Linked DNA regions of Homo sapiens: regions 1 and 3 are each linked to region 2. Evidence: fine-mapped expression QTL. A gene starts in region 2. Each other region holds a variant in brackets. All regions are shown on one strand. Distances are between the middles of the regions. Region 1 has its middle 12 kb from the start of MAFA-AS1. Region 2 holds the start of GSDMD (gasdermin D). Region 3 overlaps ZC3H3 (zinc finger CCCH-type containing 3).

Region 1 (2,748 bases), 160 kb after region 2:
CTCAGCGCTGGCTGGCTGAGGGCTTTAGGGACCATTAAAAATGCTCTCTGCCGGCCGCTGTGAGCTGTCCATTTGCTGCTGGCCTGTAGTTACTGCGGCCCCACCCCCACACATCCGCCCTCAAACCCTCACCCTCAGGGCCTCTCTGGCTTCCGCCACCCTTCCTGGGTGAGGGGCCCCTCCACCTGCCCAGCCAGAAGGATGCCCGCCCCTCGCCAGAGCCCCTTGGGGAGACCCCATGCTGAGCGAAGGTGGTGGGCACAGGACACATGCTGTGACCCCAGTGACCTAAGGCTCTGAGGCTCCGATTCACAGGGTGGGGACGGGGGCTGGGGAGGCGAGTGTTTCACGGGAACAGAGTCAGTTTGGGAAGATGGAAGATTCTGGAGGCACGAGGATGTGGGCGCGCTTCACACCACTCAGGTGCACCCTCAGAGATGGCTGAAATCGTAACACATTTTACCGTAATCACAATTTTAAGTAATCAAGCCGTCCTGTGGGGTCCTCTATGGAGGCCCAGCTCTGAGTGGGACACTGGGCTTGGGAGGTGACCGTTTCAGGACAGCCTGTCCTGGGGCTCACGAGGCCAGCCTAACCCTCCTGCCAGGGTCGGGGTGACTGAGGGAACCAGGGGACATATGGGTAGGTGGGCCCCTTCCATCACTGCCCCCTAGGAGGAACAGTGACAGTCCAGGAGGGGACAGTGGGAGGGTAGAGCACCCAAGGTTTGAGCAGAAGGGCATGGGCGGGGCCCTGCCGCCCAGCACCCTGTGGGAGTCCCTGGAGGGCAGGCCTGGCCCAGGCCAGACCCAGGAGGGCTCTGGGAAGAGCAGGGCTGGAGGCAGGCGCCACATACAGTCAGGGTCCAGCTCCTGGAACAGAGGAGTCAATGCTGGGGGTGCGGGGAGGGAGTTCCCTCGATGGCAGTGGAATCTGGGACCCTCAGGCCACTGGAGCTTCCCAGCCTGGCAGGCAGCCACTGCAGGCCTTCGCTGTCTGCGCCCGCCCTGCACTCCGCACCCTCGCTGGGTTGGCGTCCGGGACAGGGCAGGCCGGAGTGGGAGCACCCCCATGCGTGGGGCTCTGGTGTTGGCGGGAGGTCCTCAGGCCTGGGACCCTATCTTGGCAGTGGGATTTGGGGCTCAACAGAAGGAGCAATTCTGCCTCAGTCCAGTCACTGAGGGGCCTTAACTCCCTCCCTGGAGCCCCAGCAGGCGGCTTTGGGCTTCCCTGTCACACAGAGGCTGGGGATGCTGACCTGGCAGCGGGCAGAGTGAGGCCGCGGGAGGGCTGCCTGTAGAGACAGGGGCCACCGCCAGTCCAGGAGAGATTCAGAGGGCGTCTGGCTTGGCCCAGCCACGATCGACCC[C/T]GGGAGGCTCTTCCGAGGTGCATAAAACTGCTTGTTCTCCCGGTTAGAAAAATGGCCCTGCTCTGGGATAATTGATTGATTTTCCTCTTTAGGAATATTCACAAGCGCCAGTTCCAAGAACGGATCAATCCTAGCCTCCTCACAAGTCAGCCACGGGGAGGGGGAGCAGCCAAATGCAACCACCCCACGGCAGGGCCCACCCAGCCTCCTCTCAGCCCCACTGTGCACCCCCAGACGCTGTGCCAGGGTGGGGAAGGGATGGATGCTGGGGGCAGGGGCCGGGCCTGCCCTTGGAGGCTTCAAGTCAAGCCTCAACAGAGAGCCCTGAACAGGCCAGTAGGTGAGTGTCTAGGTCCCACCTAGCCAGGTCCCATATGCTATGTGACCCTGCACAGGTCTCTGGACTTCTCTGGTGCTAAAATAGGAGCACAAGTCCAGCCCCACAGACCTAAGGGCTGTATCAGGGTCCTAGGAAACCTTTCAGCTGCTCTTCCAACCCACTCCCCACAGTGACCAGGCGACCTGCTCCAAGTTCTGGCCCTGCCAAAACTTATTCTGCAGCCCCCACGAGCTGGCCTGCCTGACCTCCTCTCCCTCCTCCCTAACTCCCCACACCATGCTGTTTCAAGCTTCCTCAGTCAGCCTAAAGAACTCCTATTCATTCTTCAAAACCCTCTGCAGTTGCCCCTTCCCAGGGAGAACTGTACTTCTCCCCTTTGGGTAGCTCCATCCTGGTACCTGTGCACCAAGGACTTGTCCCCGGGCGGCTCCCCTCACTCCTCCAGCCCATAGGGACGGAGGGCTTACAGAATAGACGGCTGGGGCCCAGGCTCCTACAGGGAAAGCAAAGACCCAGGTTCCCAGAGTGGGTAGTAAACCAGTCTCAAGTGTGTTTTTCTTTAAGTGCTTATCTGTTCAGATGAGCTCACATGGTGTGTGCATTATAAAACCCACCACCCAGAAACACACAAGCTTATTCAAGGATTTACCGCAGCCTGGACAACAGAGCGAGACCCTGTCTCTACAAAAGATAGAAATAAAGTAAAAAAATTAGGCTGGGTGCGGTGGCTCACACCTATAACCCCAGCATTTTGGGAGGCTGAGGCGGGCGGATCACTTGAGGTCAGGAGTTAGAGACCAGCCCGGCCAACATGGTGAAACTCCATCTCTACTAAAAATACAAAATTAGCCAGGAGTGGTGGCACATGATCTCAGCTACTTGGGAGGCTGAGGCAGAAGAATCACTTAAACCTGGGAGGCAGAGGTTGCAGTGAGCCGAGATCTGCCTTTGCACTCCAGCCTGGGCGACGAGCAAAACTGCGTCTCAAAAAAAAAAAAGTTAAAAAAAATTTTTAAAATTAGCCAGGCACAGTGGCTCA
Region 2 (2,723 bases):
AAGGCCCCGGCCTCTGGAAGAGAGGCCCAGAGCTAGAGGCTGCAGAGCCCAGTGGATGGTTGGCCCCAGCCCGCTCCCCTCTCCCATCCAGCCTCCCTGGGGCTCTGCCTCAGCACCACATCAGGCACCTGGTTCCGCGGCATCCGGCTCCAGGATGTCCTTGATAGACAGGTTGACACACTTATAACGGGGTTTCCAGAACCATGAGCTTGAGGGCTTCCTAACCACCAGGCAGTAGGGCTGGAAGCCAGTGGAGCTCTGCAGGCTGGTCACAGGGATGAACTCCCCACCATGGTCCAGCTCCTGGACCACTCTCCGGACTACCCGCTCAAAGGCCGACCCCATGCTCCTGAGGAGGGGAAATGGGTCAGGCATTGTGCTCTCGGGGCGGGCGGGAGGGAGTGGGAGAAGGGTCAGTACTTGGATGTCTCCCATGATGGGGGACTCCTTCCCTCCAGAACAGCCCTGCCCAGCTCATCCTGGGATGCTCCCACTAGCAGAAAGCTTCTGTCCCCGGCCCTCCCCAACACAGAATTACAGTGTTCTCCCTGTTGTCTACGGTACCATGAGCACCTCCAGCCAGGGACAGTGAGGCCTGACGCCCAGACCTGCTCTAACACAGAGGGCTCTGTCCACTAGAATGGCTGCCTCTGGCTGGGAGGAAACAAGCTGTCACCTCCTGAGCGTGGTGCAGGGACCCACTGCAAAACCCAGCCAGAGTGTCACCAGGGACCCACTGCAAAACCCAGCCAGAGTGTCGCCCCACCCCAGCTGCGTCCTCCAGGGCCTTCTCTGTGCCTGGAGCTCCATGAGCCACCTGTCCAAGGCTGAGGCTTTGGGGGTCAGAGGCCATAGCGGGCCTCCGCTGGGATAGGGGGCACCTGGGCCACTGTGGAGGGGCTGCAGCTGCCCCAGGAAGCCTCTGAGTGCTGGGTCTGCTGAAAGTGGAGGCTGGGCCCAGAAGGCAGCTGGGGGCGGGAACAGCACCGGCCCGGGAACCTGGATGGCGGACCTGGGAGTCAAGCCCAAGCCCAGGTCCAAAGGCCGGGCCCCTGGGCTGGCCAGGGGCAGCCTTTCCCGAAGCCTGGAGCTTCCGCCCCCGTGTGCGGCGCGGGGCCTTCTGGGCGAACGCTGGGGCAGCAGGGCCAGCATCCCCCACCCGGGAGCCAGCGGCCGGCCCCACTCGGGAGCTCCAGCCAGGCCGGGGGAGGGGGCGGGGCGCAGCTCACCGTGACCGTCGGCGCCCCGAGGGTGGCGCGTCTGGCGCGTCTGCTCTCCCTGGGAGCCGTCCGGCGAGCAGGAGCTGGAGGTGCCCAGAGCTAAAAGTGAAACTGCAACCTGACGCAGGGCCCGCCCAGGACGCCCTCCCGGAACCGTCCCGGAGAGCCCGCCCCGGCCCCCTTCCTGCCCCCTCTTCCCGCCAGCCCGCCTGGAGCACCAGCCTCGCGCGTCCGGAGGAACCTTGGCTTGGCGCCCCATCCTGGTAGCCTCAAACTTCATAGCACTTTGTGGTTTTTCTTAAAACTCTGAGCCTGTGCCCGGGCGGATCACCTGAGGTCGGGAGTTCAAGACCAGACTGACCAACATGGTGAAACCCCGTCTCTACTAAAAATACAAAATTAGCCCGGCGTGGTGGCGCATGCCTGTGATCCCAGCTACCTGGGAGGCTGAGGCAAGAGAATCGCTTGAACCTGGGAGGTGTAGGTTGCAGTGAGCCGAGATCATGCCATTGTACTCCAGCCTGGGCGACAGAGTGAGACTCCGTCTCAAAAACAAACAAGCAAACAAACAACTTTGGGCCTGTGCCGAAGGGTCTGGGCAGATCTTCCAAAGATGTACAAAATGTAGAAATTGCCCTCAAGCAAATGCAAAGATGCTCAACACCCTTAGTCATCAAGGAAATGCAAATGGAATCCACAGAGAGATACTGCACACTGACAAAGATGGTCGTATTACTAAAGGTGAATAACCAGCGCGGGGGGCACGTGGAGTCACTGGAACATTTGTGCAATGCTGGTGGGAATGTCAACCCGTGCGGCCCTCTGGAATAAGCCTGGCAGCTCCTCCAAGAGTTACCGTGTGACCCAGCAATTCCACTCCTAGCTCCACCCACAGGAATTGAAAGCAAAGACGCAAACAGATGCCTGTGCACCAAAGTTCACGGCAGCATCCTTCGCCATAGTGGCAGCATCCGTCGTCACAGCGGCATCATCCTTCATCATAGCGGCAGCATCCGTCGTCACAGCGGCAGCATCCTTCGCCACAGCGGCAGCAGCTGTCGTCACAGCGGCATCATCCTTCGCCATAGCGGCAGCATCCTTCGCCAAAGCGGCAGCATCCTTCACCATAGCGGCAGCATCCTTCGCCATAGCGGCAGCATCCTTCGCCATAGCGGCAAGGTGGAAACCCTGTCCATCCACTGAGGCGTGCATAGACTAAACATGGCCAGTCCAGGCACTGGAATCCAGGCCGTAGAACGGCGCCCACGGTCAAAAGGAATGAGACCCTGATGCACTGGGCGACACAGACGGGCGACACAGACTTGGAGACATCATGCTAAGTGAAAAGCCAGGCACACGGAGCGGACGGCGTGATCCTGCTCACGTGATGTGTCCCGAATGGGCACGTCCAGAGGGAAGAAGGGAGATGGCGCTGCCGGTGCCCGGGACGGGGGTTGGGAGCGACGGTTGCTGGTTTGGGGTTTCTTTCTGGGGTGAGGAAGT
Region 3 (2,748 bases), 120 kb after region 2:
CCTTGGGCACGAGGCAGGCAGGCAGCTGGGCTGCAGAGCAGAGCCCGGGAGGGGTGGGCAGAGGAAGGGCAGGCTGGGCGCCCTGCACCACAGGCCAGGCTGGGCCGCTGGGGCCTTGGGCAGCCTCTTTGTGTTTCCCTGTGGGCCTGGTAGGAGAGCTGGGGCCATGTTGCTGCCCAGAGCACCTGCTGGCTGGCACACCCCCTGCCCTGTGGGTATAATTAGCACTGTGACAGGTGCTAGGGATCGCGTGCCCAGCCCAGCCCAGCCCTGACCCAGTGCAGCCTGGCCTTGGCTGACCTGCCCCACCCTCTCCCGGCCCAGCCTAAGACCCCCAGGTCTCTAGCCACACCCACCTTCCCGGGCTCCCTCTGTGCTGCCAGGATGGGCTGGCTGGGGTCTGGCAGAGGCAGCGGGTGGGCAGAGCCCTGAGCCATGGCCTGGCTGCAGGCTCTGGGAGTCCCCACGCTGGCCCAGCCCCGCCCTGCTCTCAGTCTGTGCCCAGGGCCTACAGTTGGCTGAGGGCCTCTTGTGGGTGGGTGAGGGCCCAGGTGGAACCTCTCTGGACTGGTGGCCTCAGCCTTCCAAGAGGAAGCCTTTGGCCCCAAGACTTGGACGGAGCCTATGGGGCCCCGTGGGTACTCGGGGGGCCTGGCCTGGCTCTCCTTGCCTTCCCCGTGCAGCGCCACAGCCTCCAGCCGGCCCACCCACCTGCACCCCTTCTCTCTGCAGTGCAAGAAGAAACACACGCTGCTGTGCCCCGACTTTGCCCGCAGGGGGGCGTGTCCCCGCGGCGCCCAGTGCCAGCTGCTCCACCGTACCCAGAAACGCCACAGTCGGCGGGCAGCCACGTCCCCCGCCCCAGGGCCCAGCGACGCAACCGCCAGGAGCAGGGTCTCGGCCAGCCACGGGCCCAGGTGATGGGGCAGTGGGCACTGTGCATGTGAGCCTGGGTGGCCCCCTCCCTGTCTGGGGAGATGCCCGGGGCCCTCTGGTTGAGCTCCCGCCAACTCCAGCTCTTTGGGCCTCAGACCAGAAAGAAATCCCTATCCAAGGCTGGGGATCACATGACCTCCAGAGATGCCCCTACCCCACTTCCAAGTCTGGACAGAGCCAAGGGCATCCCTGGCCAATGGAGGAAGGTGGGGCCTCACAGAGACCTGCTCACTGGGACCGGGTGGGAGGCCCAGCCCCGGGAGGAGTCTGGGGGCCCCCTCATCCAGCCCACCTGCCATGTGGGTGTGGAGCCCCATGGAGACCAGGAAGCCAAGGCCCTGGATGTGAGGGGCAGGCTCGGTGTGGAGCTGGGGCCATCCCTGCACCCAGCCTGTCCTTGCGGCCAAGGGCCAGGCCTGACCTGTGCCTCCAGCTCTGCCCTGAGACCACGGAGGGCCACGGGAGCAGGAAGCAGCCAAGAGCATGGGCAGTCTGTCGCTGGGATCCCCACCCGTCACCCCACCTCACACGTCTGCCCCTTCCTTCCCTGCAGGAAGCCTTCAGCATCCCAGCGCCCCACCAGGCAGACGCCCAGCTCGGCTGCCCTCACTGCGGCTGCCGTGGCTGCACCTCCCCACTGCCCAGGGGGGTCAGCCTCTCCCTCATCCTCGAAGGCTTCCTCCTCCTCCTCCTCCTCCTC[A/CTCA]TCCCCTCCCGCTTCCTTGGACCACGAGGCACCATCTCTCCAGGAGGCTGCCTTAGCAGCAGCGTGCTCCAACAGGCTCTGCAAGCTGCCTTCCTTCATCTCCCTGCAGTCCTCGCCGAGCCCAGGAGCCCAGCCCAGGGTCCGGGCCCCTAGGGCCCCCCTCACCAAGGACTCAGGTAGGCAGCACGGCCTGGCTCGGGCCCCCAGGGCCCCCCTCACCAAGGATTCAGGTAGGCAGCACGGCCTGGCTCAGGCCCCCAGGGCCCCCCCCTCAGCAAGGACTCAGGTAGGCAGCATGGCCTGGCTCGGGCCCCCAGGGCCTCCCTCACCAAGGACTCAGGTAGGCAGCATGGCCTGGCTCAGGCCCCCAGGGCCCCCCTCACCAAGGGCTCAGGTAGGCAGCATGGCCGGGCTCGGGCACAGGGGAGCTTTAAATGCCCCCTCAGACCACCACGTCAGAATCTCCAGGTGGGGCCTGGGTGAGTCCCACGGGCGCCAGGGGTGCACCTGCCAGCCCTGGGGCAGGGCCAGCCAAGGTGCGAGTGTAGCGGTGGCCGCTGCGCAGTCTGCCCCAGCTGAGGGCTGATTTAATTAGAAAGCACCCATTTCTGTTAATTTGTTCTGGAAGATCACCACGCACTCCTGGAGAGAACAGATGTTCCCTCTCCCCCGATGAGCATTTGGGGCTTGGTAAATGGCTCCACTCAGCCTTGTTTAGGAGAGAAAAGAGGATTTTATGGCTGCAAACGACCCTTTCTGTAAACATTTTACAGCTCTCCGCGCGTTTGAGTGACGATAAACCCCACGCAGCTCGGCGGGCTGCAAATTTGCGACCATACGGCTATCATTTTATTGTCATATTTCACGGTCGTAACGTTAATGGAAGATGCTTGCTGCAGCCTTCTGCAACAGCTCCGCTGAGCACACTCAAATGCCTGCCTCGGAGGGGCCGCCTCCTGTTCACAGCCTCCACGTCAGGGGCGTGGAGCCGTGGCCAGACCCTCCGCCCCACGAGACCTGGGCACCCGCTCCCTCCATCTGGGTGGGCCTCTCTGGGGTCGGGGAGCAGATGGGGCCCCGAGGCAGCGACTTGTATTTTTTTTTTTTTTTAA

Evidence for each region.
Region 1: its variant is fine-mapped to the expression of GSDMD in whole blood (TOPMed, PIP above 0.99).
Region 3: its variant is fine-mapped to the expression of GSDMD in whole blood (INTERVAL, PIP 0.92).

What each region holds. Positions count from the first base shown.
Region 1 is chr8:143,395,245-143,397,992 of GRCh38, reverse strand. No RefSeq gene overlaps it. Among named protein-coding and RNA genes, the nearest start is that of MAFA-AS1, 12 kb to the left of the region's middle. The variant C/T (reference allele first, on the strand shown) is at 1,370.
Region 2 is chr8:143,556,958-143,559,680 of GRCh38, reverse strand. GSDMD (gasdermin D) reads right to left here and starts at 1,335. Exons shown (of 11, transcript NM_024736.7): 1 at 1,230-1,335; 2 at 129-349. The coding sequence starts at 345. It overlaps LOC100310756 (a long non-coding RNA gene), which reads left to right and starts at 1,410. Exons shown (of 1, transcript NR_147504.1): 1 at 1,410-2,723. RefSeq lists an enhancer at 879-1,520.
Region 3 is chr8:143,439,105-143,441,852 of GRCh38, reverse strand. It overlaps ZC3H3 (zinc finger CCCH-type containing 3), which reads left to right. Exons shown (of 12, transcript NM_015117.3): 10 at 733-917; 11 at 1,490-1,812. Among named protein-coding and RNA genes, the nearest start is that of MAFA, 9.7 kb to the right of the region's middle. The variant A/CTCA (reference allele first, on the strand shown) is at 1,637.